4 linked regions of the Homo sapiens genome follow. The protein of the gene in region 4 interacts with the protein of the main gene of each other region in a pairwise test. Each region holds a gene or a part of one and is shown on either strand. Other genes may lie near its edges. The genes, in order: CCDC146, FAM161A, ZC2HC1C and FSD2.

Evidence for each region.
Region 1: the proteins of FSD2 (region 4) and CCDC146 interact in binary tests that used the Homo sapiens proteins (3 or more experiments, as listed by UniProt).
Region 2: the proteins of FSD2 (region 4) and FAM161A interact in binary tests that used the Homo sapiens proteins (3 or more experiments, as listed by UniProt).
Region 3: the proteins of FSD2 (region 4) and ZC2HC1C interact in binary tests that used the Homo sapiens proteins (3 or more experiments, as listed by UniProt).

The regions. Positions count from the first base shown.
Region 1 is NC_000007.14:77,117,991-77,125,623, reverse strand, and holds the start of CCDC146 (coiled-coil domain-containing protein 146), read right to left. Parts: upstream 3,010-7,633; 5' UTR 2,892-3,009; intron 1-2,891. UniProt on the Homo sapiens protein: Essential for sperm flagellum biogenesis and male fertility.
Region 2 is NC_000002.12:61,844,035-61,851,061, forward strand, and holds part of FAM161A (protein FAM161A), read right to left. Parts: intron 1-7,027. UniProt on the Homo sapiens protein: Involved in ciliogenesis.
Region 3 is NC_000014.9:75,072,614-75,079,640, forward strand, and holds part of ZC2HC1C (zinc finger C2HC domain-containing protein 1C), read left to right. Parts: intron 1-4,918; coding exon 4,919-4,951; 3' UTR 4,952-7,027.
Region 4 is NC_000015.10:82,782,063-82,789,089, reverse strand, and holds part of FSD2 (fibronectin type III and SPRY domain-containing protein 2), read left to right. Parts: intron 1-1,621; 5' UTR 1,622-1,699; coding exon 1,700-2,338; intron 2,339-2,483; coding exon 2,484-2,579; intron 2,580-6,064; coding exon 6,065-6,295; intron 6,296-7,027.

The sequences.
Region 1 (7,633 bases), on a different chromosome or scaffold from region 4:
TTGACATTTATATCTAGATGGTAAGAAATCTTCTGCCCATCTGATTATTTGAGTCAGTTTTAGGAAACAATATATGCTAAGAAATGCTTTAAAATTGTTTTCTTATAAATGTAATATATTTTCACTATTGATAACACACAAAAAATTGCAGTAACCACTCATCATATCACTGCTTAAAGATAACAACTGTTATCAAGTGGTATATATCCCTCTGGAATTGTTTCTGTAAAGTATAATTTTATGTTAAATTTATTATTATTATTACACAATTGAGATCATACTATACGTGCAATTTTGTATATATTCTTTTCACTTTATATATGGACTATTTCCCATATCAAGATATGTTTAAATTGTTGCATAATATATCAGCTATATACTAATTTATGTAATACTGTCTTATTTGGGAGCATTTAACATTTTTTTATTGAGACAGAGTTTCACTCTTGCCGCCCAGGCTGGAGTGCAGTGGTGTGATCTCGGCTCACTGCAACCTCTACCTCCTGTGTTTAAGTGATTCTCCTGTCTCAGCCTCCTGAGTAGCTGGGATTACAGGTGTCCATCACTACGCCAAGCTAATTTTTTTAATTTTTAGTAGAGATGGAGTTTCACCATGTTGGCCAGGCTGGTCCTGAACTCCTGACCTCAGGTGATCCACCTGTCTCAGCCTCCCAAAGTGCTGAAATTACAGGCATGAGCCACTGCACCTGGCCAGGGAGCATTTAAATTGATGCAATTATTTTCTCTTACAAGTAACCCTATAAAACATAATTCCTTGAGCATCCCTAATTTTATGCTTACATCCCCAAAAGCACAATTTCTGAGTCATAGAAAAAGCTTTTCATTCTTATTGCTGAATTGAACTCTAAAAATTTTGTGCTAACTTAACACTCCTACCAGAAGTATATGTTCATGACCACAGAAATAGCTTTTTTAAACTAAGATGTGAAAATATCTTAGAAACAAACTCTAAATAAGGAGAAAAAAGTTGTATATAATTTTCTACTTATGAGGTGAATAATTTCATTTTTTCTTCAAAGGTGTCAGGAAAATGGACGTTTTGGTAGAGTGATAAAAGGGCCAGACCTTCTAATTGCTTAATCTTAATGTTTCTGAATCTGTTTCCCCATCTATAGTGTGAGGAGAATAATTTCCCTCCTAATTAGTGAGGATACAGTGAGATGACGCATGTGAACATGGTTTGACAATTATAATGTCATATGGATGGAAGATACAACTTTTATTAATCATTGTTGATATGTGGACAGATTTGATACTCATTATACTGTTTTTAAGTGTCTATAACTTTAACTATTTTATACCAATCTTAATATTAATAATTTTCTCCATTTTCAACCTTGTATGATCAGCAAAGTAAATTTTCAGTCAATTCTATTTGGTTTTTGTTTGAAAAAGTAAAATAATGATTATGCAACATAGAAAATTATAGTTCAGTTGCCAATTCCATTAACTTAGTTTGTCTCAGAAACGGAAAAATTACCATAGACACAGAATTAACTATTAAGAATTAATATTTAATCTAAAAATGTCTAGTGTTTCTACAGAAAATTTGAGTACATTCTCAACTTCCTTAAACCAGTGCCTTTTTCAAATTTCTTTTCAAAGTTACACCTGTCAATTTTCATAAAAAATAGTTTGAAGATTATTCTGAATAATTATAACCAATGAAACACAAAGACAAGAAAAGAACTATTGCAGTGGGCCCTTGCTGAACCTGAGCTAGCACCTATAATGAGTGAGTCTTCACCGAAAGAAGAATAAGGAGGGAGCAAGGACTAGAAGGACAGAAAAGAGGCAATGATAACTTAAGAGAACACTGAATTTTTAAAAATTTTAAAAAGGTAGTGGCTAGCAGAGAACCTGAGACTTGTACCCATGAGAACTTTAGCCCAGTCTATCTATCACGATAGCCCCAAGAATTCTGGTCATTGTACTTGGGTAAGGGCTTCAATTTTTTAAGGCACTTGCATTTTATGAAATGTTAGTGTTTGCAGGTGTCTTGGCTAAATAATTTAGGGAATACATTTTAGGAGGAAGTAGGGGCACAGAGGGGGAGAGAGAAACCAGGCAGGAAAGAAGAAAAAAAGAAGAAAATAAATCTTTCTGTTCCCATTATTTTACTGCCCATAGAATTATAAAAGGTAAACACACACACACACACACACACACACACACACACACACACACACACACACACACCTTATAGGGTCATTTAGAACCATCTTTCTTCATTTTAAAACTAAAGAAACAGGTCTAGGTGACACAGATGAAGCAGTGGCAGAGCCAGGAAAATAATCTGACCCTTGTCCCTGCTCTTTCCACCGCACCATGGTGACTCTCTTTTTTGTGTCTTTTTTTTTTTCACTCTAAAACTGATGATCATTTGTAGTCAAAGAGATCAATGCTATTCTCAAAACAAGTTCTGATCTCTCATAATTTTCTTGGTAACTCAGAATCAATGTTAAGTACGTTGAAATAAAAATACAGTACTTTACACGGTAATTTGGTAGACTGTGCACCACGGTCCCATCCATTTTCTTACTTGATCCTCACAAAAACCCTTTGAGGCAAGGCAAGGAAGGTATTATCATCTACATTTTTAAAGTGAGCAAATTAAAACCCAAAGTAAGGTCACTTAGGGTCAGGACGGAGCAAGTACTCTATTCCTATATTTGGAATATAGGAGGGAATACACTTCCAAAGAGGCAATTCCCTCAAAAAGCACCAATCTTGCTCTTTACTCTCTTACCAAGGCATTCTCCATGCCCTGGAGATGCCCGCACTAGGTTAGTGAAGCTTGGATCTTGACATCCACATAGGTTACTCCTAGTTTGCACCTAGTTGTCAACTTAAAAAGCGCAGTTTCTTACCCCTTCCCTTGGTCCTGATCCTTATTTAGGCTCCTATTTTTCTCTTTGGGATTTGGCCTCCTGGGTCTCACTCCAAAGCTCCACCCTCTCCAAACAAGAAGTCGCGTCCTTGGTATCCAAGGTGACCATGCAGCTTTACCCTCGTTGCCCCCTTCCGTGCTTCCCATTGGCCAGTGGCCTCCCATGTACCGCCCCTCCAATAGCCAATGGTCTTGAAACAAAGGGCGCCCGCCTTTCCAGCGATTCTAACACCTGCCCTCTTACCCGTGCTCCCCTGCGCATTGCCTCCTGGGATATGTGGTTTCTAAGAGGCGGAGCTCTGCGACTTTCCACCGCTTTAGAACTACGTATCCCGTCGGCCTTAGCGAAAGGGGGTGGACTTAGGCAAGGGGTCCAGGTCAGAGTTCAGAGCTTTCAAATCCCAACTTGCCCCTGGGGATTACGCAGCTGATGTTTACATCGCCTAGTCAAGCCAACCGGCTCGCTCTTGTTTCAGCAAACCCTGACTTACGTCTCCTATTTGACTTGAGGCGGCACAGTGGCCAAGTCGATTGGCCGTGGCAAGTGACCCTCCCTGTGGCTGAAGTGTTCTGAGGACTGGCGAGAGAGGCGCGCCATGCTTGCCCCCTGTTCAGGTTGGGAGCTTGGCTGCTTCCGTCTCTGTCTCCGTCAGGTCCGACTGTGGGCTGGCGCTGGGCGCTGGTCTTGCTGGGCTTGCCAAGCCAGGCCGTACAGCTCAGGTAGGGGCGAGCGCTGGCCCGGATCGGAGACTGAGGTCCCTCCGCCTGGCCCGGCGCGCCGAACTCTGAAGGAGTGGACACTGCAGGTGAGCCCGTTCGGTCGGCTGCGGGCGCGGCTCCCGTGCCACCTGGCCGTGAGGCCCCTGGACCCCCTCACCTACCCGGATGGCGACCGCGTGCTGGTCGCGGTGTGCGGCGTGGAGGGCGGCGTGCGGGGCCTGGACGGCCTGCAGGTGAAGTACGACGAGGATCTGGAGGAGATGGCCATTGTGTCTGATACTATCCACCCCCAGGCGTCCGTGGAGGTGAACGCGCCCCTGAAGTTTGGCAAGTGAAGTGAAGTGAAAACGGGTTTGGGTCCCAGGGAACGCACAGTGAACTTAATAAATTTGGTCGACGTGCACTTTTAATTGGTCCTGGCTTTCTAAACCTAATTTACAGTTGGCCCCTTCGGAAATGCAACTTTTCCTCTGTTCTATTCTTGAGTATCCGAGTAGTATTTAAAAAATTAGGTTCCCAATTATAGAAATTTTATACATCGAATGGAAACACGATTTGGTATAATCCAGGTCAAATTCTATTTCTGGAGCCGCTTGTGTTCTTCTTTATCCCGTTGTCATTAGCAAACTGGCTTATTTTTCAAGGTTGAAGTTTCTTGACAATTCATTCAATGGTATGGCAGTCCATCTACATTTCCCCTTGCTCACAGCCTGGGGGTGTGTCCCAAAACAGCCCTGTCAATAGGATGTTCCAGGTACCACCTGGTTTGAGTATTTGGTTTTAGACGGGCGCCCAGCTTCTTACTGTTATGTTTCCATTCTTTTTGGCCTAAGTTTTCCATGAGTAGCAAGCTTTGAAGAAAAACACATGGTAAGCCTGCCTAGGAAGCTTCAATAATAATGCCTGCAAGATACCTTTCTTAGGTTTTCCTAAATGGCAAGCCACTGTGTACACACACTTTTCTAGGAAGGGCTCCCCAGACTGTCATTCTTCCTGGGACTGAAGGAAGATATTGATGATGATGATGATGGTAATAATAATAGCATTTAGCATTTTTAAGATCATCTTTTATAATGCTTACAGTTGCCCAAATAGTAGATGCCGTAGTCCTCCCTTATCCACCGTTTGGCTGTCTGAGTTTGTTACCTGCCTCAACTGTTGTAGGAAAATATTAAGATATTTTGACAGATCACAGTAATATAACTTTTATTACAGTATATTGTTATAATTGCTGTATTTATTATTATTGTTGTTCATCTCTTACTATGCCTAGTTTATAAATTAAACTTGATCATTGATATGTATACAGGAAAAAACATAGAATATATAGGATTTGGTACTATTTGTGGTTTCAGGAATCAAGTCGGGGGGGCGGGTCTTGCCTACTTTAAGAGAAATCATCAATATTTATGTTAATTCCAAATTAAATATCAGCGTTTTTAATTTTTAAAATTTGTATACAGCGATGCCTGCAGTTACATCTTAAATAGACAGCCAAGGATGGCATTTGTAATTCCTTATTTTCCAAACTTGCTTCATGTACCACTGCCATTTGTCCACAATCTTGTGGGGTTTTTTGTTTGTTTGTTTTGGTTTTTTTTGAGACTGCATCTCACTCACTCTGCCATGCAGGCTGGAGTACAGGTGCACAATCATGGCCCACTGCAGTCTTGACTTCACGGTTTTAAGCAATCTTCTCGCCTCCGCCTCCTGAGTAGCTGGGACTACAGGTGCATGCTACCATGCCTGGCTAATGTTTTTGTTTTTTTGTAGAAAGGGAGTTTTGCCACATTGTCCAGGCTGGTCTTGAACTCCTGGGCTTCAAGCAATCCTCCTTCCTCGGCCTCCCAAAGTGCTGGTATTACAGGCATGAGCCACGGCTCATGGCCTAATCTTGTAGTTTTAATAGTATATATTAGGTTTTTCAAAGTTGTTCCCATTTTTAAAAAATTACTTCAAATACCTTGTGATATAGTTGCATGGTAATATTTTCATTTTTTAAGTATGAAAGGTTAGACATAGGATTTGAAAACCTAAGTCATGATCATATATACTGGGGAAGAGGCTTCTACAGTCTTTCACAGGAGTACTTAACAGAATCGTAGTCTCCTTTACTTCCCATCTATGTTAGTTCTCTTTAGGTGATTTAGGCCAGTAGAAATAACTGCTCTGTTTCTAAAAACGGGCAGAAAGGCTATTGTATTTGGTCCCGTTGCCGTGGTAGAAGACCCCTTACCTTTACAGTATGCACTTTCCAGGATTCAGCAATATTATGGACATAACTGAGGAGTTGGGTTTCTAGGTTAAAATGCTTTGGAGCTTATAAACTGCAGTACTAACTTGCTTTTTTCTTTTTTTACTTCTAGGTTTAGATATCAAGTCATCAGGGTCTGGCTGTGTAGAAGTTCAAAGTATTGAGGGTGATAATTGCAAAATTGAAACAGAGCATGGGACTAGCATCTTGCAGTCTGTTAAGGTATAGCATTTTTCTAATTTTATTTCACTATTATTTTTTTAAAAGCCTTAAGCTATGAATCGTACTATCAAACTCAAGAGATTCTTCTGTTTTTCAGAACATTGTCATTTATTCATCTCTCAGAAAGTCCTTGGCAAACATTTTGCCTTGAAATCAGTTCTAGTAAAGTACAGAGGTTATAGCAGTTTTGAGGTTTTGCCTCAAATTTCTTTTTGATTTAATTTCAAAGTGTACAGTGAAACTAATAGTATTTTCCTAGTATTCTGAAATCTTACTAAAGAAATTTTAGTTTCCACAAATGATTTTCTTCCATTTTATTAAAGAGTAAGGAAGAATCTTTGTGCACTATAAATGTGCTTAAATATTAGATGACTTTAATCACATTTTTAATGTACCAGGTAGCTAGCTCATTACTTAAGGATTAAGTAGTTATTTGTGCAAAGTAACATATGATTCATCTTGTTTTGTAATTAAATTTTTTTTTTTTTTTGAGACGGAGTCTTACTCTGTCACCAGGCTGGAGTGCAGTGGTGCAATCTCAGCTCACTGCAACCTCTGACTCCCTGGTACAAGCAATTCTCCTGCCTCAGCCTCCCAAGTAGCTGGGATTACAGGCATGCACCACCACACTCAGTTAATGTTTGTATATTTAGTAGAGACAGGGTTTCACCATGTTGGCCAGGCTGGTCTCGATCTCCTGACCTCGTGATCCGCCTGCCTTGGCCTCCCAAAGTGCTAGGATTACAGGCATGAGCCACTGCGCCCGGCTGTAATTAATTTTTTTTTTTTTTAGTGTTTTCTTTGTAGAGACAGGGTCTCACTGTATTGCGCCAGGCTGGTCTTGAACTCATGGGCTCAAGTGATCCTCCTGCCTTGGGCTCATGAAGTGCTGGGATTACAGGTGTGAGTCACCATGACTGACCTATATTTAATTTTTTAAAGATTAGACTGGTGTTAGCTGTAAATAGTTTGAAATACCTCTCTGATAGGTGCTAGCTTATCGTTACTCTTAGTGCTTCTTGCATTTGCATAGTCAAAACTTGATACTTTTGTGAACTTTGAAAGCATGCAATTTTGTTGAAGTCAGTCATCTTTGCTTCATAATTGCAAAATATTTTCATTTTTAGATTTCTAAACACTAGTTAGAATAATTTGATGCATTTTTAATTTTTACATATTTTTTCTTTCATCCACCTTTATTTGCGTATCTGCCATCAGCATGTGTCCACATATGAATCATTTCAAATAAATTTTTGGCACAAATATCATAAAAGATTAACATTACCATCACAAGTCCTTCTAGCAAAATAAGTTGGTTCAGATTCTTGTTGTAAAAGATTGTATAATAAGGTCTTCATGTTGAATGACTAGGTGAGGATATCATAATTCTTTTTTGTCCTTAGAAATATTTTGTTCAGTCATTGATACTTAAGTTTCAGAAAACTAATCTAGACTTGTCCTCTGAAGACTCAAGAGTTTGAGATTTCCAATTTCACAATCAAAATTAGAATCTAGTATACTGCTGT
Region 2 (7,027 bases), on a different chromosome or scaffold from region 4:
CGGGAGGCTGCAGCAGGAGAATGGCGTGAACCTGGGAGGCAGAGCTTGCAGTGAGCTGAGATCAGGCCACTGCACTCCAGCCTAGGCGACAGAGCGAGACTCTGTCTCCAAAAAAAAAAGCAGTCTTCAATAGAACTTACGTGCAGAAATTTGCTACCAACAACTCTATGAATCAGAGAACTGCTTTAACTATGTCAAACAATTCAATTAAGAGAATTCTCTGATATCTTCTGCTGTTTCTTTATGTGCTTCTCACCATAAACTTCTTATCTGCAGGATGACTACTTTGTGAATTTCCTCATTCATTAAATATTTGGGGGCCATCCTGCAATCAGCTAGCTGCTAAAATGTACGTCAGATTTTTTTTAAACTCTACCTTTGAGGCCAGGCACAGTGGCTCACACCTATAATCCCAGCACTTTGGGAGGCCGAGGCAGCCAGATCACTTGAGGTCAGGAGTTTGAGACCAGCCTGGCCAACATGGTGAAACCCCCTCTCTACTAAAAATACAAAAATTAGCCAGGCATGGTGGCAGGTACCTGTAGTCCCAGCTACTCGGGAGGCTGAAGCGGAAGAGTCACCTGAACCCAGGAGGTGGAGGTTGCAGTCAGCCAAGATCGTACCACAGCACTCCAGCTTGGGTGACAAAGCAAGACTCTGTCTCACTTAAAACAAACAAACAAACAAAAACTCTACCTTTGAGAAGTTTCCAGCTAGCTTAGGAAAGGACATGTATATAAATAATAGACAGCTGACTTAGAATGAGACAGAACACCTGATTCCTGCCCACAAGCTACTTCCAGCTAAGCGGAGAGACAGATGTATGTCACAATGTCAGACACTAAGAGACAGAGGCACAATTCACAGAGGTGAGCCAGACTGGAGACACATGGTTGGACGAGGACAAAGTTTGCCAGATCAGGGAGGCAGTGAAAAAGGAATAAATAAATCCGAGGCATAGTGCTAGAACATCCATCGCCAGGAAACATGTGGATAAATGTCTGGAGACCTGGTGAGAAGGCTGGGCTGGAGAGCAGATACAGGAGCCACCAATCCACACAGAAGTAGCAGGTGCAGCCTTGGTTATGGACGAGGCTGCCTGGAGGGAGTGTGAGCAACAAGACATGAGAGGACCTGAGAATGGAGATGTTGGAGAACACCAACATTTAAATAAGCAGCGGAAGGAGGACTAATAGGAGGTAGAGAGTGGCATGAGAGATACAAAGACCAACTGATACGGGTCTTTGGAGCCTCTGATTGAGTATTCTGACACCACATCTGTAATTTTTCTCCTAAACCATGAGAACACTCCAAACTAAAAGTTATTTAACTCTCACCCAATGCTTTCACCTTTATAGGGTCAAAAGGGGGCTGAAACCAGGTGACCAGTGACCAGGAGCCAGTGGTAGACAGGAAATGGAGGGAGCTTTTGTTTCGTTTGAGTTTGGAAGATAGGGGAAGACTTCCTGGAGGAGGTAATATTTGAGATGAGTCATAAAGAATGGAGGCCAGGTGTGGTAGCTCATGCCTGTAATCCCAGCACTTTGGGAGGCTGCAGTGGGAGGACTGCTTGAGGCCAGGAGTTCCAGACCAGCCTGGGCAACACGGCGAGACACCATCTCTACAAATTTTTTTTAAAAAATTAGCTGGATGTGGTGGCTGAGGTGGGAGGATCACTTGAGCCCAGGAGGTTGAGGCTGCAGTGAGCCGTGAGCGCGCCACTGCACTTGAGCCTGGGCGACAGAGTGAGACCTTGTATCAAGAAAAAAGAAGGCTGGGCGCGGTAGCTCACGCCTGTAATCCCAGCACTTTGGGAGGCTGAGGTGGGTGGATCACCTGAGCTCAGTAGTTCAAGACCAGCCTGGCCAACATGGTGAAACCCCTTCTCTACTAAAAATACAAAAATTAGCCAGGCATGGTGGCGTGTACCTGTAGTCCCAGCTACTCAGGGGACAGAGGCAGGAGAATCGCTTGAACCTGGGAGGCAGAGATTGCAGTAAGCTGAGATCGAGCCATTGCACTATAGCTTCGGCGATCAAGCAAGACTCTGTCTCAAAAAAAAAAAAAAAAAAAAAAAAGAATGGAGAAATCTATAGGATCACAGAGTGTTTATGGGAAAGAAGGGGAAAGTACCCTAGGCAAAGGAAATGGCGTTAGCAAATGCGCAGGCTGGGGTTGGGGAGGCTGTGCATAGCAGAGGGCAAGGTGCACATGGCTGCCGGATAAAAGGAGAGGAAAACCCATAAAGCAGTTTTGGGAAGTAAACCTAGAAAGGGAGGTTAGGGCAAGCAAGAAGGGGTTTCCATCTCCTGCCTACCACTGGCTCCTGATTACTGGTCACGTGGTTTCAGCCCCCTTATGACCCTTCAAAGATGAAAGGGTTGGGTGGGAGTTAAATAACTTTTAGTTTGGAGTGTTCTCACAGCTTAGGAGAAAGATTTCAGATGTGACGTCAGGATACTCATACAAGCCTGGGCTCCGCACTTAGCAATGTGATGTGGGCATGAACTTCTTGAACATCAGCTTTAAGATATGTAAAGTAGGTGTGCCAGGTGTTAAACTAGTGTCTCTCAGCTCCAATGCCACCCTTCTCGACTCTGCTTTGCAATGCCAGAGCTGGAACTCTGCAAACCACACTTCTGCTTTGCCAGTGCTCCTCATCAGACTCTGCTAAAAGTGGAGTTAGAGGGAGATACAAGGCTAGAGGAGAAAGATGGGACTTACTCCTTTCTGTTAGCCCTCTGACTGCTTCCTGTCGGCTTGTGTCAGTCTAGCAACGGTTATTCATCTGGGCAGCAGCAGTTCGTTTTAGTAGCAGTGTCTGAATCCAGTATGCAGTTTTCACTCGAAAAATCAACAGAATTGGCCAGGCACAGTGGTTCATGCCTGTAATCCCAGCACTTTGGGTCACTTGAGGTCAGGAATCCGAGACCAATCTGGCCAACATGGTGAAACCCCATCTCTACTAAAAACAAAACTTAGTCGGGTGTGGTGGTGCATGCCTATAATCCCAGCTACTCGGGAGGCTGAGGCAGGAGAATCGCTTGAATCCAGGAGGCAGAGGTTGCAGTGAACCAAGATCGCACCACTGCACTCTAGCCTGGGTGACAGAGTGAGGCTCCATCTCAAAAAAAAAGAAACAAAAATCCACAGAATTACTTCAAGGCCTTTGCACTTGCTGTTCCCTCTCCCTAGGATGCCTTTTCCTCCAGATATCCACATGACCCACTTGCTCACTCCTTCAGGTCTTTATGTAAATGTTGTCTTCTCAATAAGGTCTTCCCTGACTCTCCTATTTAAAATTACAACTTCTCCCAGGACTCACTGTCAGCCCCCTTGTCTGTCTTATTTTTCCCAGAAGTACTCATCACCATTGACGTCCTACATATCTGTACTTGATTGTGTATTATATGCCTGCCCCTACCAAAAAGTAAACATTACAAAGGTAAGAATTTGCCAGGCCTGATGGCTCAGGCCTGTAATCCCAGCACTTTGGGAGGCTGGGGCAGGTGGATTGCTTGAGCCCAGGAGTTTCAGACCAGCCTGGGTAACACGTCAAGGCCTCATCTCTACAAAAAATACAAAAAATTAGCTTGGTGAGGTAGTATGCACCTATAGTCCCAGCTAGTTGGGGGACTGAGGCGGAAGGATCACCTGAGCCCAGGAGGTTGGGGCTGCAGTGAGCTATGATGGAGGCACTGCACTCCAGCCTGGGTAACAGTGTGACCCTGTCTCAAAAAAACAAAACAAAACAAAAAGAAAGGCAAGGATTTGTCTGCTTTGTTTAATGTTGTGTCCCCAGTGTCTAGAAAAGTACCTGGCTAATGGCAGATGTTCAAGGAATATTTACTGAATGAATGAATGAATGTACAGAAAAAAAAAATTCCACCTTGGGAAGAGGGCAGTTACTCCCTCCCAAAAGAATGAACCATGCAAAGAAATGCTGGCTGCTCTAAAGAGCTATATTCCACCAAGTATTAAGAAAAAGGCCTATGTTCCAAAAACTATAATTAAAACAGGGAGGGTATTTCAAAGAACTGTTTTTAAGCAAAAGAATCTATGCGCTCTCATTCATTCTTTTAGAATATCTCTTAAAAATCATGTCTTATAGCAGTCATTTACACAAGAAGGATCAAATTTATTTGGACCTGGAAGAACCGTTTGAAAACCATATAGAAGAATGAGTAGCTTCTGAAAGATGCGGCAGGTCTGATAAATTATACTTATGTACTGATTTTGCACTGGATCCATTCTGTTTTCAGCTTAATACTGTTAACGCTAGCTGAAACTTTTCAGATAAACTGATCTCACAGTGTTTAACCTAAAACAGATGAATGGCTAGTAAATGACCTCCAATTCTAATTTAATCTTTAATTGTCTCCACTGAGAAAATATTTAGTATACAAAATAACCTAGGCCATAGACATTATTTTTCCAAGAGCCTAAAATAGCATCCTCTCCCTTTAATCGGCTTTTTGTGGAATGTTGTAAATGCAGCCACCAGATTAGAGGATAATCTTCCCTAGATTGGCTTGACCCATTTAGATAATGAATCCTTCCAGTACCTGTTGCTTTATTAGTAATCAGCACCTATGAAGAATTATTTGTGCTGCAGCCTATATAGTTTCATCTGCAACCTGTAATTTTTGAAAAAATTTTTTTCGCTGAATTTGTAAAGAATGAGAGAGATCTACATGTACTAACATGGGTAAACTCCCAATAAATAAGAAAAAAAAGCAAGTTGCAGAACTATCTCCCTCTCTCTGTCTATATATATATTTATATATATATATCTATATATATTTATATATATATTTATATATATATTTATATATATATTTATATATATATTTATATATATTTATATATATATTTATATATTTATATATATTTATATATATATATTTATATATATTTATATATATATTTATATATATATATATTTATATATTTATATATATTTATATATATATTTATATATTTATATATATTTATATATATATTTATATATTTATATATATTTATATATATATAAATATATATATTTATATATATATTTAAATATATATATTTATATATATATTTAAATATTTATATACTTATATATATTTATATATTTATTTATATATTTATATAGTATGTACTGTATATTAAAATATATGGAGGAGATAGAAAAACGGCCAGAGAATAGAATACATATCAATTTTGAAACAGTGGCTACCATTAGGGAGGGAGTAGGTATTCATATTTTCTCTTCTGGGGGAGAGTTGTTAAAAGGGCCTAAGCGTCATATGTAACATTTGATATTTTAAGAGAAGAATGTCACCTGGTATGGTGGCATATACTTCTAACCCGAGCACTATGGGAGGCCGAGGAGGGCGAATTGCTTGAGCCCAGGAGTTTGAGACCACCCTGGGCAACATAGTGAGACCTTTATTTTACAAAATAAAAATAAAAATAAAAAAATTAGGCCAGGATGGTGGCTCAGGCCTGTAATCACAGCACTTTGGGAGGTCAAGGCTGGCGAATCACTTGAGGTCAGGAGTTCAAGATCATCCTGGCCAACATGGTAAAACCCCGTCTCTACTAAAAATACAAAAATTAGCTAGGTGTGGTGGTGTGCACCTGTAGTCCTAGCTACTCAGGAGGCTGAGGCAGGAGAATCACTTGAACCCAGGAGGCACAGGTCTCATTGAGCCGAGATTGTGCCACTGTACTCTAGCCTGGTGACAGAGCGAGACTCCATCACAAAAAAAAAAAAAAAAAGAGAATGAAATCATGTCCTTCACAGCCACGTGGATGGAGCTGTAGGACATAATCTTAAACAAATTAACAGAAAACCAAATATCACATGTTCTCATAAGTGGCAGGTAAAATAATGAGTACACACGAACATAAACATGGAAACCACAGACACTGCGGGCTACCACCAGGTGGGGAGGGAGGGAGGGAGGGAGGGCGGCGTAGGTTGAAAAACTATCTATTGGGTACCATGCTCACTACCTGGATGCAATATACCCATGTAACAAACCTGCACATGCACCTCTGTATCTAAAATAACAGGTGAATTTAAAAATATAGGCCAGGCATGGTAGCTCATGCCTGTAATCCCAGTACTTTGGGAGGCTGAGGCGGGCGGATCACCTGAGGTCAGGAGTTGGAGACCAGCCTGACCAACATGGAGAAACCCCGTCTCTACTAAAAATACAAAATTAGCCGGGCGTGGTGGCACACGCCTGTAATCCCAGCTACTTGGGAGGCTGAGGCAGGAGAATCGCTTGAACCTGGGAGGTGGAGGTTGTGGTGAGCCAAGATCACGCCACTGCACTCCAGCCTGGGCAACAAGAGTAAAACTCCATCTCAAAAAAATATATGTGTGTGTGCGTTCGTGTGTATGTGTGTATATGTGTATGTATGTATGTATATCGACAGTGGAGCCAGGCACAGTGGCTCACGCCTATAATCCCAGCACTTTTGGGAGGCCAAGGCAGGTGGATCACTTGAGCCCAGGAGTTCGAGACCAGCCTGGGGAACATGGTGAAACTCTGTCTCTACAAAAAATATAAAAATTAGCTGGGCGTGGTGGCATGCACCTTTAGTTCCAGCTACTTGGGAGGCTGAGGTGAGGAGATTGATTGATCCTGGGAGGTTGAGACTGCAGTGACCTGTGACTGCACCAGTGCATTCCAGCCTGGACAAGAGAGTGAAACTCTGTCTCAAAAAATAATAAATAAAAAGTGGAGTCAGAAGAAAAACAATAGGTTCTCTCCTATTTATTTTTAATCATTATAGGCTGTTCATTTCTTTCCCAACATTTCCCATCTTATAGTTATGTGTCTGTTCATTTTTTGTTTTTTGAGATGGAGTTTCGCTCTTGTTGTCCAGGCTGGAATACAATGGCGTGATCTCGGCTCACTGCAACCTCCACCTCTCGGGTTCAAGCGATCCTCCTGCCTCAGCCTCCTGAGTAGCTGAGATTACAGGCATGTGCCACCACGCCCGGCTAATTTTGTATTTTTAGTAGAGA
Region 3 (7,027 bases), on a different chromosome or scaffold from region 4:
ACTTACATGATAAATTTAGGTGAACTTCATAGGCACATTTGGACATATCTGGAGAAGATTGTCTCATAAATGAATGACATGTCAAGGTTGTGCCACTTGGTTTATAAAATGGTTATTTCTCAAGGTGTGGCATGCTGACAAACTTTATTTTAGTAGTTTTAGTGTTTAGTGTTGTATTAGAAAAATTGATTCGTCGTTTAGTGTTATATTAGGAAAATATAACAATATATTAAGCCCCTGATTTCCAGGGATCATGAATTTACAGAAAAATATTAATTAGTTGTAAGGATGAAGTGAAAGTGCAGATGATTGAAGTTTGGGAAAGCGTAGATCATATGATCTCAGAGGCCCCATCTAGTTCTAATATTCCAGAAGAATAAGAGAGTGTCATTCTGTTTTCATTTCTTCCCAACCCTCCCTCCGCTGTGCTGGCACCTCTTGTCCATTGGCACTTTACAGTTTCTGTGTATTTGCTGGAGCCTTTAAAAACTCACATTTATATGATGGTTGTTAGAAGAAATTGTTTACAATTAGAGTTCTTTCTTTTAGTAGTTTGGAGAAATCACAAGGAAGTCCCATCCATGTTCAGAGATCATCTCCCTGAAATCTAGTTTCCAAAGAAGAAATCAGCATTTTGCTCTTGCAGATAATAATATGATCACCACTTACTGTTTTTTCCTGTTTTCTTTCAGTTCAACCCAGTAATCCACTGGGAATTCACTCTATGTCCCACTGTAGCGATTTATTTTTGGCCAGAGCCTAAAAGAATCTTGTGTTTCTTAAATTCGTAAATACAGTTACGGTGAAGCAAAATAATTAGGTTCCTGAGATCAGATGCTCCAGCTTTATGGCAACTAGTTTGTGGGAATGTGTGACATTGAGGACACCAAGACAGAAGGGACCTAGACTAAGATGCACCTGCACCACCCTGGTAATGTCTCAAATCTTATTCCACAGTGCTGTGCCTTTGGAAGCTGAGTGGTTGTACCTTCCTGTCATTCCTCTAGAGTACTCAAGAACAGGTGATTTTCCTGGTATCCTTTAATCTTCACGTAACTCCCAGCAGACGTACACCCTGTCTCTCTCCTGGACTGTAAGCATTTTTGAGGACAGGGAACATATTTTGTGCTTTGTGCTTAATAAGTGTTAACTGAATAGAATTTCAGTACAATGAGGAATAAAATTATAGGAATTAGAGTATAAGAAGTAAATTACTAAAGGATCTCATATACTTGAGGAACTTTCCCCTGATCAAATTCTTTGAGAGGAACTTTCCCCTGATCAAATTCTTTTTTTGAGACCGAGTCTCGCCCTGTTGCCCAGGCTGGAGTGCAGTGACGCGATCTCGGCTCACTGCAGCGATCTTGGCTCACTGCAGCCTCCACCTACCGGGTTCAAGCAATTCTCTGCCTCAGTCTCCTGAGTAGCTGGGATTACAGGTGCCCGCCACCACACCCAGCTAATTTTTGTATGTTTAGTAGAGACGGGGTTTCACCATCTTGCCCAGGCTGGTCTTGAACTCCTGACCTTGTGATCCACACGCCTCAGCCTCCCAAAATGTTGGGATTACATGCATGAGCCACCGTGCCTGGTCTTCGAATTCTTTTAAAGGTTCCTGGATACCATCGCTAATACTCTCTTGCCTTCTTGTCTGTTTTGGCAAGAGACTTTCTGGAAGGATCCTTTCTTTTCCTTTGATAGTATCTCTTCCTATTATTCATCATTAACAATGCCAGATCACCAAGAGCTAGTTGTCTTTTTTCTCTTTAAAAAATTTAATAGTGTTTGCATGCATTTAAAAAACATGTAGTACTGAATGACCTATAATGGAACCCCTAATTCAGCCCCCGGAGGCAGCCTTCAGTTCTGTTAGATGGTTCTTCTGGTCTGCCTTTCCATATTTCCAAATAATATGCTTATTTTCTTGATTTATCAATTTTCTACATTACCTGTTTTTTTTTGTTTTGTTTTGTTTTTTTTGAGACGGAGTCTCTGTCGCCCAGGCTGGAGTGCAGTGGCTTGATCTTGGCTTACTGCAACCTTCACCTCCCGTGTTCAAGCAATTATTGTGCCTCAGCCTCCTGAGTAGCTGGGCTTACAGGCGAGTGCCACCACGCCCGGCTAATTTTTGTATTTTTAGTTAAGACAGGGTTTCACCAAGTTGGCCAAGTTGGTCCTGAACTCCTAACCTCAAGTCATCTGCCCACCTCGGCCTCCCAGAGTGCTGGGATTACAGGCGTGAGCCACGGTGCCTGTTCTACCTGGTAACTTCTTATGGAAGCTGGGAGTGAAGTTCTCTTTCATATTCCCTCTCTCCTACTGTTCTCTTTCTCTTATCCTTCCACTGTAGTCGAATCACAATTTTTGGTTAAAAGTAGTTAGCTTTCACATTGTAATGATCAAGTAAATTTTGTTCATTAATGAGTGAACAAATTCTGTCTCTGCCCACATGTACCTAAAATTAATAATGGACGTATGTTTTCATTTCCTTCATTTTCTACATACCTGTCTTTTTCTCCCCCGCAACGATCCATCTGATATCAGACATCTGTTAACGTTTTTGTAATGCTCAAACACCTCTCATAATCTATCAGTTTGATTTTTTAATTCTGAAAACCTCCCTTCAGCCACTCTGATCCCTTCTGCTCCAACCTGGACTGGGTATTCTCTAGGCCTGGTGCAAACTCATTCTCTTGGAACTTCTCTTTGCTTCTCTTCTTTGTTGGGTCCTCTGTTTCCAGCATCCTGTGTCTTCCTTTTTCTTGCATTACTCCTTCCTTTGCTGAAGCTTACTAAGAAGGGTGCATAGCAGGTATATTGTCTTGGAATGAATGACACTATCTATATGACAGGCTCCCATTTGATGATTTGGCTAGGTACAGAATTCTAGGAGGAAAATGATTATCTGTTAGAACTTTTAAAGTATTTCCCACTAGCTTTTAGCATCCAGTGTATTGTTGTGAAATCTAATGCCATTTTGATTCCTGTTCCATTACAAGAAACCTTTTTTTTTAAAAGGCTACGGGATTCTCTATTTATTTTGAAATTCTGAAACTTTACAATAATTGTGCTAGATACTTGGTAAGCCATTTCAATCTCAAAATGTGTGACCTTTAATTCTAGGAATGTTAATTGTATTATTTCCTTAATAATTTTCTCCTCACCAGGTGCTGTGGCTCACGCCTATAATCCCAGTACTTTGGGAGGCTGAGGCAGGTGGATCACCTGATCTCATGTGTTCAAGACCAGCCTGACCAATATGGTGAAACCCCATCTCTACTAAAAATACAAAAATTAGCCGGGCGTGGTGGCGCACGCCTGTAGTCTCAGCTACTTGGGAGGCTGAGATAGGAGAATCGCTTGAATCTAGGAGGCTGACGTTGCAGTCAACCAAGATTGCGCCACTGCACTCCAGCCTGGGTGACAAAGCAAGACTCCATCTCAAATAACAACAACAACAAAAACAAAACAAAACAAAACAACAATAATTTTCTCCTCGTGCTTTCTCTGTTCCTTCTGCAACTCTTATTGGTCACATGTTGGACTTCCAGGATTAACTTTCTAATTTTCTAATCTTTTCTTTTTACTTTCCATCTTGATCTTTTTTCCCATTCTGAGAAATTTTCTTGACATTAGTTTACAACATTTCTATTTATTTATTTATTTATTTTTTGAGACAGGGTCTTGCTCTGTCGCCCAGGCTGGAGTGCAGTGGCATGATCTTGGCTCACTGCAACCTCTGCCTCCTAGGTTCAAGCAATTCTCCTGCCTCAGCCTCCTGAATAGCTGGGACTACAGGCGTGTGCCACCACGCCCAGCTAATTTTGTGTATTTTTAGTAGAGATGGGATTTCACCGTCTTAGCCAGGATGGTCTTGATTTCCTGACCTTGTGATCTCCCCACGTTGGCCTCCCAAAGTGCTGGGATTACAGGCGTGAGCCATCACACCTGGCCTCTATTTAAATAATTTTTATTTTTAGCTATCAAAGTTTTAATTTACAATAGTTCTTTCTGGTTCTCTGGTTGTCTTTTTTTCACAGTATACTCTTCTTGTTTTATGGACACAATCTCTTCTAATACTCATTTTGTTGATATGGTCTCATGTTAAAAAAAAGTTTTCTTCTGCCACCTGCCTTGTTGCTGCCTCCTAAGTTTTTGTTTGTGGACTTTTTGGCTCTTTTTCTTGTTAGAGCTTTTAGCAAATATCTGATGATTCCTGGCTGTCCTTTCATATTTAAGCTTAAGTGGGGCTCATTGACTAAGGATCTTCATATTAAGGTTCCCAGATAGTGAGTCTTTTAATTAGCGTTTCCCAAGGTCAGTATCTGAAGGCTTTTCTCTGGACTGTTCTGTGTATCCAGAGTACCCCTCTTTTTCCTATGAGGATGCCAATATGCTTGGTACTCTGGGGGCTGAGTGGGGGAAGGAGGCTGACAGTTCGATAATTTGGTATGTACACTTGTACTTAATCCCCATTTTCAGCCCCAAGATTAACCCAGTTCCACGTGTCTAGATTTCCTGAGTCAGAAATCTGTGTGGTTCAATTTCTCCAGAGAATAAATCCTTGCTCTTCTGTGAGTGTGCTTGGGTGTTGAACACTTGGATGCATAAGGTGGGAGGAGCCGTGGGGTCCTACTTGTTTTCAGTCCTGTACCTCCTTACTTTCCACTATCGGGTACTTCCAAGCACTGAACCTCTCAGGTTCTGTTGGGAAAGTGGCTTGCCTCTCAGCAGTACCTCCTTTGCAGGCCCTTGGTTTGCCTCAACGCTGGCAAGTCAGTTACCGCTGTTGCTCCTTTCCTGTTCTCTTTGACCTTGCAGATTAGTACCCTTTTCATTTTCTTACTGTTATTCTACAAGAGACTCAGGAAGGAGATAGGTGCCAACTTGAATGATCAGTCTCCCTTTTACATTACAGGCTGAACCTCCTCAGAAGAGCAACTGGAGATAGAAGCATGAATCTTTTATCCATACGTTCCGCCAGGCTCGAGAGGTCCAGCAGGTAACTGCCAAAGGTGGAAACTGTTCACACTTGCCTCCCATCCTGCCTGCAGAAAACCCAGACTGCATTCAGTGTCCTCAGTGTAGCCACCACTTTGCTCCCAAGGTGGCTGAGCAACACATTCCCAAGTGTAAGACCATCAAGAACTGTCTTCCACCTCTAAGGAAGCATTATAGTTGAGCAGACAACAATGGAAACTTTTGGATAGTTCAGAAAGCTCTGCTTCTCTTCAGCAGTAAATGGGAGTAGAATTTGATGCAAAGCAGAAAGAAATCAAACAGCTCCCAGATCTGCCTGCAGAGCTAAAATCTGTGAGGAGAGAGCCACTGCTAAGCAGCAGGAGGCAGAAGGAAGCCCCAGCTTCCCACTAAATTACAACCTTGGGCTGGTATGCTTTATGTTATTGCCCTCAGAATTGATGGGTGAAGACACTGAAGAGTCATGAGCAGGCTCCATTAAAGCTCTTTTCTTGCATGCCTGACTTGTGGTTTGTGCTAGTTAAGTGCCTGCATCTGGTTCTGCCTTCTTGTCACTGCATGTATGTTCAGAGTTCCTGTTAACTCTTGCTTTTGTAGAAGCTGGAGTTATTAGGATGTGTTGGTGTCAGAGGGGCATGATCACCCAGATAGTAACTCTTATAAAAGATAATACAATTTTGCTATAAGGCATTATTAATGGAAATCTATCCTTGGTCTCCCTGGTGCATAAGCCTGGCCAAAACCCAATACAAGTATGTAAGGTTAAGGCACCAATGTCTCCTAAACCTTCCCTATGGTGTACTGTGTAATAAAGGAAAGATCTTTATGTACTTTACAGGGTAGGGATGGGTGTTGGGGGGGAAACACATTATACTTCTCTCTACTTGTTCTTTTCTAATGGGTTTCATATGTTAAGAAAGAAACCTCCATTTTAGCTGTTAGTAGCACTCTACTTTCAAATCGGTTTGGCTAAATGACTGTTTAGAGGCAGCAAAATCTACCATCAAAGCAAGCTGAGACAGGCTGGTCATGGTGGCTCATTCCTATAATTCCAGCACTTTGGGAGGCTGAAGTGGGAGGATTGCTTGAGGCCAGGAGTTCAAGAGCGGCCTCGACAACAAAGCAAGACCCCATCTCAAAACAAAACAAAGCTGGGACACTGCACAGTGTCACATGCCCTTGGCAATTATAGCATAGTCAACTTCTATTTCAGAGAGTAAACTTTGAAGGGAAAGGGATCAAATCTTTTTAATTTTCTCTGTGTAGAATATTGCCTAGCACAAGTTAGACCTTCAATTAGTGAGGTCTGGAGATTTAAAATTAAACAAGAAGATGAGTGAGTCCTACACTAGTGAAATCAGAGAACTGATAAGTTAATGTCTGCGAGAGTATTATCAGTTCAGATAGGAGTGAAGTTAGCACAACAGATAGAAATCTTAGGATTACTGTTCTGTATTACTCAAATTGTTAGTTTAAAATACTGGAGAAAAACTGCTCAATTTGAGCTAGTCAACAGGGCTAGACAGACAACAAAATCCTATTTTACTAAGTAACAAATGGCCACTCACTCTTGCTCCATTTCCACTGCACTCCAGCCTGGTGACCTAGTGAGACTCCATCTCAAAAAAAAAAAAAAAAAAAAGAAAAAAAAATTGGGCTAACAGATCAGACCAATTTGAAATGTGAGTTAAGGCTTTAGCGGTGAAGCTGCAGGACACAGGCTGGGAAAAAATCCTATATATTTAAATAGGAGCACACATTTCTTTGCACTCTTTTTAATTGTTCCAAAGGAAAGGAGGTATCACATAATAAAGCTTTATGGTTAGCCCCTTAAGGAAACCTCACACAGAGATAATGGATATTTAACCTAATAGGTACATTCCCTAGGCAAGTTCAATGAAATGTACACTTTAAGTGGGAATGTAAACCAGTACATTGCAATAGATGGCAAGAGTAAGCTGTGGCCAAGGTCACAAAATGGCAACATGTGGATTGCTTTGCTCCACAGATGTTTTATTTCGCTGGCCTAGCATTCATAATATGATCT
Region 4 (7,027 bases):
AATAATTTTTTTCCTTGTATTTGGGATTTTTCCTCAAGGTTCCAGAAGAGGATTACTAGGTTAGAGAGAGTATGAACAGGCTAGAGAGTATGAACACTTTTTTTTTTTTTTTAGACAGAGTCTTGCTCTGTCGCCCAGGCTGGAGTACACTGGCGCAATCATGGCTCACTGCCTCAGCCTCCCTAGTAGCTGGGACTACAGGCATGCACCACCACACCTGGCAAATGCTTAAATTTTTTGTAGACATGGGGTTTCACTGTGTTGCCTAGGCTGGTCTCAAACTCCTGGCCTCAAGCAATCCTCCTGCCTTGCCCTCCCAAAGTGCTGGGATTACAGGCATGAGTCACCACACCCTGCTGAAAGTGTGAACATCTTTAAGGTTCCTGACCCAGGTTGCCAAGCTTGCTCTTCAGAAAAGTGGGGCCAGTTTACATTCTAGCCGGCAGCATATGAGAGTGCTCACTTCACTGTCCCCTTATCCAGCTGCGGGTATCACTTTTGATATTTTTAAATATTTTCTAACTGAAAAGGCAAAACAGCATCTACTTATTTGTTCTGTCACTTTTTTTTTTTTTTTTTTTTTTTGAGACAGGGTCCTGCTCTGTCACCCAGGCTGGAGCGCAGTGGTGTGATTTAGGCTCACTGCAACCACCACCCCTCAAGGCTCAAGTGATCCTCCCACCTCAGCCTCCCAAGTAGCTGGGACCACACGTGCACACCACTATGCCTGGCATTTTTTTTTTTTTTTGTATTTTTGGTAGAGACAGGGTCTTGCCATGTTGCCCAGGACGATCTCGAACTCCTGAGCTCAAGCAATCCATCTGCCTCAGCCTCCCAAAGTACTGGGATTATGGGCATGAGCCACCACGCCAGGCCTGTTCTGTTACTTTTAAGTACAGTTTTTTTCAAATGTTTTTGTGCAGGTGCTATCATATACAAAAGTAATTGTTTTGTGAATTGTCTGTGCACATTCATCTATTGAGATGCCACTTTTTCAATTAATTTATACAATTTAAAAATAATAGACTGGGCGCAGTGGTTCATGCCTGTAATTCCAGCACTTTGGGAGGCTGAGGTGGGTGAATCACCTGAGGTCAGGAGTTCCAACATAGTGAAAACCCGTCTCTACCAAAAATACAAAAATAAGCTGGGTGTGGTGGCACATACCTGTAATCCCAGCTAGTTGGGAGGTGGAGGCACAAGAATTGCTTGCACCCTGGAGGCAAAGGCTGCAGTCAGCCGAGATCATGCCACTGCACTCTAGCCTGGGTGACAGAGTGAGACTCCATCTCAAAAATAAATTAATAATAATAATAATAATAATTGCCTGAGATGCTTCCCATTATTTTGCCTTTTAAGTTTTTTTTTTAATGTATGAGGGAAGTATTTTGTTGGACATATCTATTAGACATTTCTTTTGTAATTTCTTTTGTCTCTTTTAACCTTAGAAAGCCCATCCTCCCATAGAAAACAAATTTTTTAAAGATGGTTCAAAGTGAAACCACGACTGAACTACACAGATAATTTTTTTAAAGTTTTATATGAGTAGAGCCCAATCTAATGATCATCTACTGCAATGCCCTTCTCCAGAAATGATTTTCCTCCTCCTTTTGTGTTCCAGGGCCCAGATATTCACTATTAAGTGTCCAGGAAGGATCTTTCTTATATAAAGGTGCTTCTGAGGACTTCCAGAGTTACAATGGAGGAGGAATCGGGGGAGGAACTGGGGCTGGACAGGTCTACTCCCAAGGATTTCCACTTTTACCACATGGACCTGTATGACTCTGAAGACAGACTGCACCTCTTTCCAGAAGAGAACACTAGGATGAGGAAAGTAGTCCAAGCTGAAATGGCCAATGAGTCAAGAGGAGCAGGGGATGGTAAGGCTCAAAGAGACCTTCAAGAGGAAGTGGATGAACTTGTCCACTTATATGGACTTGAAGATGATCATGAATTAGGGGATGAGTTTGTTGATGAAAACATACCCAGAACAGGGGTTTCAGAATATCCTCCTTATATGATGAAGAGGAGAGACCCAGCCAGGGAGCAGAGAGACTGGAGACTTAGTGGAGAGGCAGCGGAGGCCGAGGACCTGGGCTTCGGAGGGTGGGGCTCAGCAGGCCAGTGCCAGGACTTGCGGGAAGCCTATAGGTACACACACGGCCGTGCCAGCGAGGAGTATGAATGCTATGTCATCCCCGAGGAAGAGGATGAAGAAGAAGCTGCTGATGTCTTCTGTGTCACTTGTAAGACTCCAATAAGAGCTTTTCAGAAGGTTTTTGATGAACATAAGGAGCATGAAGTGATCCCACTCAATGAAGCACTGGAAAGTGCCAAGGTAAATAGGTGTCCTTGGTTCTTCTCTGTCTTGATATTGCTTTGGTATCTCAAGTACATACGCAGGGAATAAATCTAAAACGCCTTCTACAAGAGTGAGAGAAGATGTAACATTAATACCTTCTTTGTGATCCTCTGTTGGATAGGATGAAATTCACAAAAACATGTACAAATTGGAAAAGCAGATAATTGAGATGGAAAACTTTGCAAATCATTTGGAGGAGGTTTTCATCACTGTGGAGGTAAGAGCACACTTGAAGACCTCATCAGACTCACATTTCTTCCATCAATGGCTATGTCAAGCAGCTGTTTCTGGTATGAGCTAGAGAATCTGTTTTCTTAGAATGTGAGGGGTCACCACTCCCCCTTCTCTCCTCCCTTCTTTCACTGACCTCCCATAGCACCTGGGCATGGACGTCATGGAACCAATTACCTGTCAGCATTCCCTGCTGAACTATAAGCTCTTGGTGTGAAAGCTGGGTCGTCTGTCTCAATATCCCTAGTCCTACTACATGGTATGTTTCAGAGCAGGCATTTTATACATGTTTGTTGCATGAGTAAATAAGGTAGAAATTTCCCAATCACAATCCCTCTCCTTCACTGGCTTCATTTTCTCCTAATCCCCCTTTACCCAAATCACCAATTGTATGTGATTTAGACCCTTATTCGAATTCTTTTTTTAATGTATACTGTTTTCATCATTCAACTTGATAGACCCTTATTCTAACAAAGATGACTTCACGGTGGCATCATCCAGTGAATTCCCTCATTTGAGCCCAGGTGGTGAAGAGGGGACATCCTTTCTTTTGCCCTTGTCTTTTTGGGTTTGTTTATTTGTTTTGGACCTCTTTTTTTGGGGTAGAAGTTCTTACTGAGAATCCCCGGGTTGCTATCTGGTGCATTGGCGGAGAAACCAGAAACAGTGGAGTTCCATGTTGTTCCGTTGGTTTCGGGAGTTGTTAATTTTAGGCTTTTGGGGGTACCTATAATGTTGACTATATAAAGTCAGGTGTAGACTGTCAAACACTTTTTTGTTGTTCTAAGAGGCAAAATACCCACTTCTGCCAATGATCGCTACTCAAACAAAGGAATATTTTTAGCTCTGCATGCATTTAAAAAATAAATTTATGGCTGGGCACGGTGGCTAACGCCTGTAATCCCAGCACTTTGGGAGGCCAAGGCGGGTGGATCACCTGAGGTTAGGAGTTCGAGACCAGACTGGCCAACATGGTGAAATCCCATTTCTACTACTAATAAAAAATTAGCTGGGTGTGGTGCCATGTGCCTGTAGTCCCAGCTACTTGGGAGGCTGAGGCAGGAGAATTGCTGGAACCCGGGAGGCAGAGGTTGCAGTGAGCCGAGATCACACCACTGCACTCCAACCTGGGCAACACAGCGAGACTCCATCTCAAATAAATAAATAAATAAATAAATAAATAAATAAATAAATAATGTATTGCCTTTGTCTAGTTAGCAATTTCCAGACTTTTCTGAGAGATCAGTAAAAGCTTAGAATTCTAGGATTGGAAAGGAGTTTCTATTCTTTGACAGCCCCTCTCCCTCCCAATCTTGACATGGGTAAGAATGTGAGCCTTGATCCAGATGCCAAGACGACTGAGATAGAAGGTGTGGTGTGGCTCTGTAACTTTTGTCCACTAGTCATATTGGCCCCTAGAGCTACACAGAATAAGACTAGCTCCTCTTTCACGGTTCAGCCTTGACAAGGTATTACAGGATACCCATCCCGTTTTTGGTAAGTGTTCTTTTCCTCAGCTGATATCTATTTCTCATAAGATTAATAAGTTTCCATGCCTGTCACCAAACATGCCACAGTCCCCTGTGTGTGCCCTAGTAGATACATGGTAACCACTATGATGCCAGAGCTCAACCCAACCTTCCAGATGAGGTCAACCAGGACTGAGGAGCTTAGGACTTGCCCTCTCTCTTCTCTTCATGCGGATGCTCTACTTCTATTAATGCAGCTTCGGATGGTACCAACAGGAGGATCTTATATGAATCAACGAAGCCCCAGGCCCATTTCCCATGAAGGTAGACCTTTTCCAGCCCCAATCTTACAAGGGAGGAGAGCTATTGCACTAATCCCCCATGGAAGATACAGAGAAGTGGCAAACCCTTCCACTGCCAAGCATAGGGTAGTGGTAGAAGGGGGTAAGTGTACAACATCGAAGACAAAACTTCTTACATTGGCCGGGCACAGTGGCTGACGCCTGTAATTTCAGCACTTTGGGAGGCCAAGGTGGCAGATCACTTGAGGTCAGGAGTTCGAGACCAGCCTAGCCAAGATGGTGAAACCCCATCTCTATTAAAAATACAAAAAAAATTAGTTGGGCTTGGTGGTGGGTGCCTGTAATCCCAGCTACTTGGGAGGCTGAGACAGGAGAATCACTTGAACCCAGGAGTCAGAGGTTGCAGTGAGCTGAGATCGCTCCACTGCACTCCAACCTGGGTGGCAAAATGAGGCTCCATAAAAAAAAAATAAAATAAAATAAAATAAAATAAAAAACTTCTTACATGCTGCTCTGCCAGCTTACTCTCAGATCAAAGTCCCTTCATCCTCAGTGGCCATCCTTTCATACTCAACACTGGGAAGTTCATCTATTGCCTTTCTCTCTCTTCCACCATTCTGAGCAAGTCCTGTGCACATAGCAGGTGTTCAGTAATTACTCCCTGAATGATTGATAAGATCCTCTTCCTTGGAAATGTCCCCATCATCTGATGAGGATGACATCCATCAGAGCTTGCAGAGCTCTGGGGACAATATAAGCAATATATACTCTATTAATATTAATATTTCTCATCTACTGTGCTCCTGGATTAATATTGTCAGAACCCTCCCTCTGCCCTCTTGCATCTTCTCATCTGTAAGCAGTGCCGCCAGACCACAACCCTTGTTCCTCCTTTGCCTTCATTTCTCCCCTAGTTGATATGATCCTAGTTGATTTAATCTTGATATTTGTATGATCCAAGCACCAGGGAGTGAAGAGGAGCCTCATGAGATGTTAAGAGCTCAGGAGAGAATGATAGATGGGAATCTCTCAGGGAAAATATTTCCACATTAAGGTCCAATATCGGGCAGAATCATCACTGATAATCTCCCTGGTCACTTGTCATGGTGATAGAAGGTAGTTGAAACTGGAACTGGATTGCAAAATGCTGCCAGGAGAGAAAGCAGTGCTTTTGTTTAGATTATTCCTGGAGTCTAGGCCGGAGACACCTATGTTCCAGCACCTCCAGTTTCCATTCCAACTCCCAACAAGAGATGAGAGGACAAAGTAGAGGAACTAAAATAGTTCTGATAGGCACATATTTTCATTTCTCTAATGACTCTAATCAGGCTGGGCGTGGTGGCTCTTGCCTGTAATCCCAACACTTTGGGAGGCTGAGGCAGGCGGATCACTTGAGGTCAGGAGTTCAAGACCAACCTGGCCAATATGATGAAACCCCATCTCTACTAAAAATACAAAAATTAGCCGGGCATGGTGATGCACACCTGTAATCCCAGCTACTCAGGAGCCTGAAGCAGGAGAATCACTTTAACCTGGGGGGCAGAGGTTGCAATGAGCCAAGATCACACTACTGTACTCCAGCCTGGGCAACACTGCAAGACTGTGTCTCAAAAACAAACAAACAAAAAAACAAAAAACAAAAGACTCTAATCAACACACTACATGCGCTGAAATGATGACTGAGATCAACTGTCTTGCAGGAGAATTTTGGAAAACAAGAACAAAACTTTGAGTCACATTACAACGAGATCTTGGAAACACTTGCTCAAAAATATGAGGAAAAAATACAAGCTCTAGGGGAGAAAAAGAAAGAGAAGCTGGAAGCCTTATATGGACAACTGGTCAGCTGTGGAGAAAACCTAGATACTTGCAAAGAACTGATGGAAACAATAGAGGAGATGTGTCACGAGGAGAAGGTGGATTTCATAAAGGTCAGTAATGAAACAAAATGAAATAATGAACATAATGGAAAGAGATGGAATTATAAACGGAAACGACAGTTATGGTTGAGGTAAGCTAGGTTGTCCTCTTTCCTCCTGGAGGCATTGGAATCGACTTTTATGGCCAGCATCCATTTGATTCCACTGGATGATCGTGATGGGGAGGCTGTGGCCCAATCTCTCTGCATGGCTTCCACGTGAGTGGCCAGGCGGACTCACAGCGCAGACTCTCTCCCTCCCCCAGCGCAGAGGCAGCACCAGTCTTTGTTCCTCTGTTCTGGTCACCCAGATACCTGTTCCCTCATCCTGGAGCTAAGCTGAGCAAAAACCGTGCTCTAACAGTTTTTTGTTGTTGTTGTTTTGTTTTGTTTTGGTTTGGTTTTTTTGAGACGGAGTCTCACTCTGTTGCCCAGGCTGGAGTGCAGTGGCGCGATCTCGGCTCACCGCCAGCTCTGCCTCCTGGGTTCACGCCATTCTCCTGCCTCAGCCTCCCTAGTAGCTGGGACTACAGGCGCTCGCCACCAAGCCCAGCTAATTTTTTTTTTTGTATTTTTAGTAGAGACGGGGTTTCACTGTGTTAGCCAGGATGGTCTTGATCTCCTGAACTCGTGATCCGCCCACCTTGGCCTCCCGAAGTGCTGGGATTACAGGCGTGAGCCACCATGCCCGGCCAAGAGTTTTATTATTATTATTATTATTATTATTATTATTATTATTATTTTG